Linked DNA regions of Homo sapiens. The protein of the gene in region 2 interacts with the protein of the main gene of each other region in a biochemical or structural test. Each region holds a gene or a part of one and is shown on either strand. Other genes may lie near its edges.

Region 1 (3,657 bases), about 120 Mb from region 2:
ACAGGGAGGGCTGCAGCACAAGTTTATTAATAGATACCTCATCATCTTCAGCACAAACCTAAAGCAAGTTTTTTCAAGCCTGGTTTCACAGAATGTCAGGTTAGCATTCTTCAGTCTTTTTCTAAAGAATACTGACTTCTGGGCCAGGCGCAGTGGCTCACGCCTGTAATCCCAGCACTTTGGGAGGCCGAGGCAGGCGGATCACGAGGTCAGGAGATCAAGATCATCCTGGCTAACGTGGTGAAATCCCATCTCTACTAAAAAATACAAAAAATTAGCCGGGCGTGGTGGTGGCCACCTGTAGTCCCAGCTACTTGGGTGGCTGAGGCAGGAGAATGGCATCAACCCAGGAGGCAGAGCTTGCAGTGAGCTGAGATCAAGCTGCTGCAATCCAGCCTGGGAGACAGAGCAAGACTCCCTCTCAAAAAAAAAAAAAAAAAAAAAAAAGAATACTGACTTACTGACTTCTGAATTATGTGGCTGTGTTTAGGCTAATGAAATGATCACATTCAAGCTTCTATCAGCTAAGACACTTCAGAAAAAGGCTAAGACAGGGCAACCAAAAAAAAGAAAGTCTTTCCCCAAAAGAGATGGCTTTACATTTGGAACTCATCTAGTTTGCTCATCTTTTTTTTTGGGAGATGGAGTCTGCAGTACAGTGGCATGATCTTGGCTCACTGCAACTTCTGCTTCCCAGGCTCAAGTGATTCTCCTGCCTCAGCCCCTGGAATAGCTGGGATTACAAGTGCACGCCACCACACCCAGCTAATTTTTGTATTTTAGTAGAGACAAGGGGTTCACCATGTTGCCTAGGCTGGTCTCAAACTCCTGACCTCAGGTGATCTGCCAGCCTCGGCCTCCCAAAGTGCTAGGATTACAGGTGTCAGCCGCCGCACCAGCCTTAGTTTACTCATCTTTGTATCTGGAATTCATCTAGTTTACAAGGCAGTTAGATTTTTAAATAACATTTAATATTATTTAGTAATAATAATAATAATTATTATTTTTGAGATAGAGTCTTGCTCTGTTGCTCAGTCTGGAATGCAGTGCCATAATCTCGGCTCACTGCAATCTCCACCTACCAGGTTCAAACGATTCTCCTGCCTCAGCCTCCCAAGTACCTGGGACTACAGGCGTGCACCACCATGCCTGGCTAATTTTTTTGTACTTTTAGTAAAGACGGGGTTTCACCATGTTGGCCAGGCTGGTCTTGAACTCCTGACCCTCAGGTGATCCACCCGTCTGGACCTCCCAAAGCGCAGGGATTATAGGTGTCAGGCACCGTGCCCTGCCTAGGTGGATACATTTTAAATACAGTACCCATGGGAGACCTAGGCTGAAAGGGACCCAAGGCCCACGCTCTACAATCCCAAACTCCAGGACTCCGGCCACTGACGATGATTGCTTCTCTGAAGTTCATGTCTGCTTTTCAGCCACTTGATGCCCAGAAACCAGATGCCAACTAGCTACACAGGCAGTGACAAATATCAGGGTGCAGGGCCACTCACCTAAACTATCAGGGCTGTCGATGGAAAAACACATCAGTATAACATCGGTATCTGGGTAGGAGAGGGGCCTCAGGCGATCATAATCTTCCTGCCCAGCTGTGTCCCACAAAGCCAACTCTACCTGTAATGGGAAAAACAACCACAAGAGTGCAAGGTTAATCCCCCCACCCACTTTTAGAAAAAGTGACACTTACCATAGTACATTGAAATGGCAGACCATTGAAATGGCAGACGGTCTAAAACAGTAAAACACAGGAGTATTTACATTTTTTCTTTTTTCTTTTTTTTTTTTTTTTTTGAGATGTAGTCTTGCTCTGTCGCCCAGGCTAGAGTGCAGTGGCGCGATCTCTGCTCCCTGCAAGCTCCGTCTCCCGGGTTCACACCATTCTCCTGCCTTGGCCTCCCAAGTAGCTGGGACTACAGGTGCCCGCCATCACACCCGGCTAATTTTTTGTATTTTTAGTAGAGACGGGGTTTCACTGTGTTAGCCAGGATGGTCTGGATCTCCTGACCTCATGATCCGTCCGCCTCGGCCTCCCAAAGTGTTGGGATTGCAGGCGTGACCCACCGCGCCTGGCCTTTTTTTTTTTTTTTTTTTTTTTTTTTTTTTTTGTTGAGACGGAGTCTTACTCTGTTGCTCAGACTGGAGTTCAGTGGCAAGATCTTGGCTCACTGCAAGCTCTGCCCCCGGGTTCATGCCATTCTCCTGCCTCAGCCTCCTGAGCAGCTGGGACTACAGGCGCCCGCCACCACGCTTGGCTAATTTTTCGTACTTTTAGTAGAGACGGGGTTTCACCATGTTAGCCAGGATGGTCTTGATCTCCTGACCTCGTGATCCGCCTGCCTCGGCCTCCCAAAGTGCTGGGATTACAGGCATGAGCCACCACACCCGGCCGAGTATTCACTTTTATGAGCATCAAGCTCAAATGAGAGTATATTTAAATTATTTTAGGTTGAAATTTCTCAAAATTGAAAATCTGAGAACCCACCTCTACAAAAACACCTTAAAAATTAGCTGAGTGTGGCCAGGCGCGGTGGCTCATGCCTGTAATCCTAGCACTTTGGGAGGCTGAGGCGGGCTGACTGCCTGAGCTCAGGAGTTCGAGACCAGCCTGGGCAACATGGTGAAACCCCGTCCCTACTAAAATACGAAAGAAATTAGCCAGGCACGGCAGCGTGCGCCTGTAGTCCCAGCTACTGGAGAGGCTAAGGCAGGTGAATTGCTTGAACTCGAGAGGCAAAGGTTGCAGTGAGCCAAGATCGTGCCACTGCACTCCAGCACTCCAGCATGGGCGACAAAGCGAGCCTCCATCTCTAAAAAAAAAAAAAATAAATAAAATAAAACTTAGCTGAGTGTGGGCTGGGTGCGGTGGCTCACGCCTGTAATCCCAGCACTTTGGGAGGCCAAGGCGGGCGGATCACCTGAAGTCGGAAGTTCGAGACTAGCCTGACAAATGTGGAGAAACCCCATCTCTACTGAAAATACAAAATTAGCTGGGCGTGGTGAAGCATGCCTGTAATCCCAGCTACTCAGGAGGCTGAGGCAGGAGAATCGCTTGAACCCAGGAGGCGGAGGTTGCAATGAGTGGAGGTTGCAATGAGCTGAGATTGCACCACTGCACTCCAGCCTGGCCAACAAGAGCGAAACTCCATTTAAAAAAAAAAAAAAATTAGCTGACTGTGGTGGTGCACGCCTGTAGTCCCAGCTACTTGGGAGACTGAGGTGGGAGGACTGCTTGAGCCCGGGAGGCGGAGGTTGCAGTAAGCAGAGATTGTGCCACTGCACTGCAGCCTAGGCAGTGAGACCTTGACTCAATTAGGAAAAAAACAAAAAAACAAAACAGATACTAGAACTGAACCAAGTGGCATAATTCAAAATGTCAAGTCAAAAATAACTCTGTAGCTTATAAAAGTGTTTAATTATAAATAACATTCTACTAGGAAAGAAAGCAGACAGGAGGGAAGAAATCAAATTTTAAATAACATCCTACCAGGCATACAGGCGAGAGAGGAAGATACAAGACTAAGTAAATTTTCTGCTATAATGTGGAAACCATGGAAACAAATCTGTATTTTGAGTTGGTAGGTAGGAAAAGACACCATGCTGGCTGTTAGGCAAGGCCTGAGATGACAGGAAAGCCCTTTTGGC
Region 2 (2,447 bases):
CTAAGGATGACAGGAAATTTTACAGGACTAGAAGGAATCATCTTCTCTTATCTGGATCTGATCCTCCTCGACACCTTGGGGGTTTCCGAAGGCTGTGTGCTCTCAGTTTTAGCTGGTTGTTACGTAATCAAATATCCCATGCATGTTTTTACATTTGATCAGGTGGGCCTAATCACAAGGACTCATGTTGTCAGTGCCTTTGGGAGCAAAATGAAATAAATCTCTGTCTCAATATTGGAATTTATTCCTTCCTGTTGCTTAGTGGTGTCAAGATACAGTGTCAATGTTACCAGAAGTGCCTAACACAGTCTACTGTGTAGGCTAAAGTCTGCCGTGTTCGTACAGTGACTGAAAAGGAATAATGACTATATCCTCATTTGGGTGAATGTTACTACTTCAGGACCAGATGAGCAGGGGCATCCCATGTAACCATGAAGAATCTTGAAGCAGCATTACAACATCTAATAATAAACAATCTCTCAAACAGTGCCTGTATGAACTGCAAGATGAGGGCAGGTCCAGCTAGACATTGGCTGCATAAATGAAGATCAGAGAAGAATAAGGAGATTCAGACAACTTTTGGCAACCTAGATCACAGTTACTGGTAAATTCTTGTTACAAAGGAAATGGATTTTGGTATACGGAATTTGAATATGTGTTTTACTCAACAGAGTACATGCTACCAACAAGAATGCAGCCCCCTTTTTACAAGTTAGGCAGAAGGAATTATAAAGTCTTGCTGATGTTTACAGTCCTTACATCAATGTGACTGCAGCCCTCCCCAGTCATTCCAAAAGGTCCTTGGGTTGGATACGAGAATGCGTCAGGCCTGGCTTTGGCTATGACATCCCCAGGAAGTCACTGTGTGCAGTGTGGTCTCCAGGGTGGAAGTCTTTGAGCTGCCAATGAATATCTCTTAAGTCCAAACCTCCATGGGCACTATGGCCTCTTTGGTCCCAACAGAAGGCAGTAGGCTTTCTTCAGACAAGAAATAAAAGGGGAATTGCACCAAAAATCCACGGATCTTCTTCAGTTCCTCCTCAGCTCGAATGGGATCTTCCTTAGCTAATACGGGCTTGTTTATAAAGTCTCTCAGCTGAATTAAATTGTGTACTTCATCATTGGGAAGGCACCGGAAAACCTGATTAGAGCATAAATAGAAAAATGAGTGAAAAGTTTAAAAGCGAGCACATGGCCTTTATGGAAAATAATTATTCCAACAGACAAGACCTCTGTTGTATGAAACATATTATTAGTCTTATGTTACAGCACAGACCTGATTTAAGAGTTGGTTATCTTATAACCAACAATAGATAGATCTGCTACAAACAGATAGATCTGCTTCCATTTAAAAAATCATGGTTAGTGGCAAGAAATTACACTAATGTTACCCCACATTAAGGTTAATTTTTTTTGGATAATAATCATCCCTGAATTTCACTGGAGCTTCTGGTCTAAGAGGAATATTGCATATTATATTTTCCCTAACTTTTCTTGAAAGAGGCTCATATCTGTACCTTTACATAGCATTATCAATTGTTAATATGTAACACTTACTTTGCTGGTTGAAAATGAGTTTTGGATATCATAACACTTCACCCCTGAATACTTCTCTGCAGGTATGTCTTAAGAATAAGGACATGTGCCTATATAATCACAGCACTATTCTCACACCTAAGAAAATTAATTATATAATGTCATTTAAGTTATGCTTCATATTCAGATTTATCCTGTTATCCCCAAAATGTCTTTTATAGATGTTTTCCCCCAAATCCAGGACCCAAATAAGGCTGTGCACTGCATTTGTAAAATTACATTTTAATGACTCTATGCACATGACCTATTTGATCATGGCCTTCGGTCCATGAAATAAGGATGAAATAAGGTTATACAGGGGTCAGGCGCATTGGGTCATGCCTGTAATCCTAGCACTTTGAGAGGCCAAGGCAGGCGGATCACTTGAGGTCAGGAGTTCAAGACCAGCCTGTATCATAATACAAAAATTAGCTGGGTGTGCTGGTGGGCACCTGTAGGCCCAGCTACTCGGGAGGCTGAGGCAGGGGAATCACTTGAACCCAGGAGGTAGAAATTGCAGTGAGCCGAGATCATGCCACTGCACTCCAGCCTGGGCAACAGGGTGAGACTCCATGTCAATTAAAAAAAAAAAAAAAAGGAAAGAAAGAAAAGAAACAAGGTTATACAGACAGTAGACATGTTTCATTAAGAATAATAAGTTTCTCTGCTGGAAGGGGCTCTAAGAGAAAAATTGCGTATTTTCCCTAATTTTTTTTTTTAAAGAGGTTCACGTCTGTCCCTGGAAGTCATGAAGAAGAACACAGACTTATCCAACTTCTCACAGATGGTCAATTAGTCTGGGCTAGAACACAGCTTGAATAGTTTTCCCTGATGGGCAACTAGCTACTTTTCGAAGTAAGCTGTTCTACTGT
Region 3 (3,657 bases), on a different chromosome or scaffold from region 2:
CACTCCATTTAGCTCAGTGATACTTAGGAGATTGGGTGGGGTGAGGGTATACACTTGGGGTATTTTCCCAGCCCTTATTCTGGGCCATAAATATTGTTCCCCCTCCCTTCCCAGTGATTCAAAGCCTGCAAAATCCTGGTCACTCACAGAAATTTTAAAATCAGTTAGTTGCAATACAATCAATCACCTTTATTCCGGGTTAGAACAAGGCCGTGCACACTGCAGACAGAAGAGCACAAGATAGGGGCAATCTCACAGCAATATAAGGAGTGGGTGGGCAGGTTAGTCTTTTTAGATTATTTTGCCTTACAGAGAAACTACTAGACTCTGCTGAAAAGAACCCTGTCTCTCTTCTCCCATTTCTTCCATAAGAAAGGCTCCTTATTCTCTCTCTCACTCTAATGTAACATATCCCAAATGGAAGGACAGTTCATGCTCATTCCCCCCACCCAATTCTACAAGTATCTCTCTCTTCTTAAGGGAGAAGCCAGACAGGGAAAGGGAGACTTGGGAAGGTCCTTTAAGGCAAAACTGTGGAGTCCTAGAGGTGTGTGTGTTAAGGCAGGTGTCTGCAGCAGTGGCCAGAGGGGCAGGGCACGCTAGGCTGGGCTAGGAGTTAAGAGTACTGTCTAACCAGTCTGGCTTCTTCCTTCTTCCAGCAGCCAGCCCTCCCCTCCCATTAAAGTTTTACTCCCACATCCTAAAAGCTCCTAACTTGAACTTTGTCTAAATAGTCTCTGAGACTGCATGTGAATTTAATGTTTTTTGAAAAAGCCTTCTTTTTTGTTTGGACTATGTAGCAATTTGATTCTGCCACTCCCTTCACTGTGGCATTCCCCTCCCACCCCCGCTCTGGCCTAGACAATAAGTTAATGCTAGACACCACAAAAAAGGGCAGACATGGCAGTGCAGTTTTAATATACATATATGTAGAATATATATGTACACACAGTTAGCACGGTCAGGGTGGGGAGGGGCATCTTGGGGTAGGCAGGAGGCTGGGGTCACTCACTGTACTGTAGTGATGTGGCTAGGAGGTGTTCACAAGCCCAGGGGGCCAGGATATCTAGTAAAGAAGGGTTTCCTAAGTAAGTCCCTTCCGGGATTGAATTGGGGTGGGGATCGGTGCAAAGGAAAACACTGTAGTTAACTTCTTTCTGGCTTGGGATGTTCTTCACCAAGGAGAGAGGGAAGGTTGCCTACAATAACCAAGTTGGGACCCTATAGATGGTGGTGTCAGGATTCGTGTTAAAACCTAAGGGTCTCATTCTTCAACCTCCCTAGGTTTAGAGTGCAACAGTCTGAGTAGGAACAACTGAGTGGAAGAGGGGGCTCCCCTCTCTCTGCCCTCATCCCCATCTCAGGCTCAGTGGTACATGTTCCCAGCACAGTCTCTCCAGAGTACAGGTGGGTGGGGGCATCTAACGCTGGCTGCTCCATGGGGTTTGATCTTAGGGACCAGGAAAGGATCCCTGGCTCATACCTATGCTAGGCCCATGAGAGACAAAAAGGGACCTGCTGGTACTCAGGAAACAGTCCAGCACAGGAGTACAAACATGGAACTCTGGCTTTTCTTTGCCCCTTCCAGGTGGGGGTTGAGTGGTCTCTTTGCCTTCCGTCCCCACTGCTTTTCCCTGGATCCACCTACCTCTCCCATACCTTACCCCTATGTCAGCTCCTCAATGTAGGAAAATGCAGGTCCTTTCTGCTTCCACACTTTAAAGATATGGGGGGAGTGGAGGAAAGGGAAGTAGGAGGAATGTGCTGATTTCTATTTGCATAGAAATAGCCCCCACCTCCTCCTAAAGTGGGGAAACTCAGCCCCCTCCCCTAGCCCCTGACCCCCATCCCCTTAAGAAGAGGAACTAGATGAGCTAGACATATAGACAAACAGCCAGAGCGTGCGCACACGCACACACACGCGCACAGTAAGGGGGTTAGGACCAGGTTAGTAAGTGGGTAGATGGTGGGTTGCCCTTGCCCCCTCTCCTGGAGGATGGGGGAAGGGAGTGGTCTGATGAAGGTCCAACCTTCCTCCTCTTCCTCCCCCTTGCTCAGGCCTTCTTCGGTGGGGGAGCCAATTTGATGATCTCTTCCTCAGAGGGCTGCCGGATAATGTCTGGGGGCAAAAAGGTATGTGTCCAGGGACAGCAGTGTGGGAGATGCCAGGCAGGCCCATTGGGCATCTGCCTCCACTCTCCCAAAACTCAAGTACTCCAAGGATAGTCAACGGGACGAGGCAGAGGTGCAGCTAGTTAAAGGAGTGGCCGCTTACCTTTGTACTTCTTGGCACTGGGGATACGGGTTAGCTTGGTGTCCAGCTCATCCTCCTCAGAGATCTTCAGCACACGGGTTCTGTAGTCAACCACCATAGTGAGTAGGTCAGGACGGCGGGAGATCTCAAAGATGTGCTCAATGTAGGAGAGGTTGTCTGGAGGAAGGCAGGAGATAGGGTCAGAGCTAGGCTGTAGAGGTCAGCTTCCCCTACTCCACCAGACTAGTGACCTGGAACCAAAGCTGAGTTGCTGACATTGGTTATGGGAGGGTACAACACTGGAGGAAGAGGGGCTACTAATCCAGGAGAAGAAAGCTAAGGTACCCAAACAACAATACAGAGGACTGTTCGCAGGAAGGGCAGATAGTTGGTCAGTGAAGTTTCTAGATTGTGGTTAGAATGAGGGGTTTAGCTTAGATACTAGCTCCCATATGTTGTGGGGAGGGGACAAAAGAAAAATCAACTTGACTTCCAGATACCCCACCCCCACCCCCATCCTTTTCCACTTTCCATCCAAGTAAGTATCAGAATTTGCTGACAGCACATGTAGGACCAGCAGGGTGGAATCTCTAGGCAACCCAGGAGAGATTCTGGGCCTGGTGAGAAAGGTTATTCTAAATGAGAGAAGGTATGGACACCACCAGAAGGACGATGTCCATGGCTTGGCCAATTCCAGGAGATTATAGATGCCCTTAGACCTTCTTCCCTGGCTCCTCCCCTCTGACTGTTGCCATACAGTCTAACTGTAACACGTCCTCCTTTATACGTTCTCCCTGCCAGCCACACAGCAGTCAGAATAGTATATCTGAAGGGCCCTGAGTTCACTCACCTCACCTATCCAATACCCAGGCTCTCTACAACACAGTCTTACCTTACCTTCCCAGCCATTTCTAAACACCCTACATCCTAGTCAAGCCAAGCAGGACTGATTGCATTTCCAAACACACTAGATACTCTGTGACAGTGTTCCTCTGCCTGGCATGCCCTCCTTTGGATCTTGCCTTAGAAATCCCACTCACCTTTCAGGGCCATCTTAAACACCAATTCTTCCCTAAAGCCTCCAGCTGTGAGGGATTACTCTAATCCATAGATCCCACTCCCCAAGCAGTAGTCTCTCAAAGTGGATAAGAAAATGATAGAACTTGTAGTTTTAAATTTTACCAGTTTTTAAAAAATGCTTAACAAAGATTAGTATTACTATTTACCAGTTAGATTACACTTCGAGTTCTCCCCTCATTCAGGTATTCTTCCATTTTTATTGTCTAGAATTCTTCCCAATTTTTGCCACTTAAAATTTTACTATTTTTAGATTGTTTTTATGTTCTGTTGTATATGTGATAATAGCACAGGAGTATCTGAATAACATTTTTTACCGATGAGGG

What was found.
Region 1: the proteins of PLD1 (region 2) and RHOA form a complex in vitro, tested with the Homo sapiens proteins (2 studies listed by BioGRID, with this or other methods).
Region 3: the proteins of PLD1 (region 2) and PEA15 form a complex in vitro, tested with the Homo sapiens proteins (one study listed by BioGRID).

Annotation. Positions count from the first base shown.
Region 1 is NC_000003.12:49,366,920-49,370,576, forward strand, and holds part of RHOA (transforming protein RhoA isoform 1 precursor), read right to left. Parts: intron 1,630-3,657; coding exon 1,509-1,629; intron 1-1,508. UniProt on the Homo sapiens protein: Small GTPase which cycles between an active GTP-bound and an inactive GDP-bound state.
Region 2 is NC_000003.12:171,602,162-171,604,608, forward strand, and holds part of PLD1 (phospholipase D1), read right to left. Parts: intron 1,142-2,447; coding exon 917-1,141; 3' UTR 1-916. UniProt on the Homo sapiens protein: Function as phospholipase selective for phosphatidylcholine. Implicated as a critical step in numerous cellular pathways, including signal transduction, membrane trafficking, and the regulation of mitosis.
Region 3 is NC_000001.11:160,211,884-160,215,540, reverse strand, and holds the end of PEA15 (astrocytic phosphoprotein PEA-15), read right to left. Parts: intron 2,432-3,657; coding exon 2,276-2,431; intron 2,120-2,275; coding exon 2,055-2,119; 3' UTR 169-2,054; downstream 1-168. UniProt on the Homo sapiens protein: Blocks Ras-mediated inhibition of integrin activation and modulates the ERK MAP kinase cascade. Inhibits RPS6KA3 activities by retaining it in the cytoplasm. Inhibits both TNFRSF6- and TNFRSF1A-mediated CASP8 activity and apoptosis.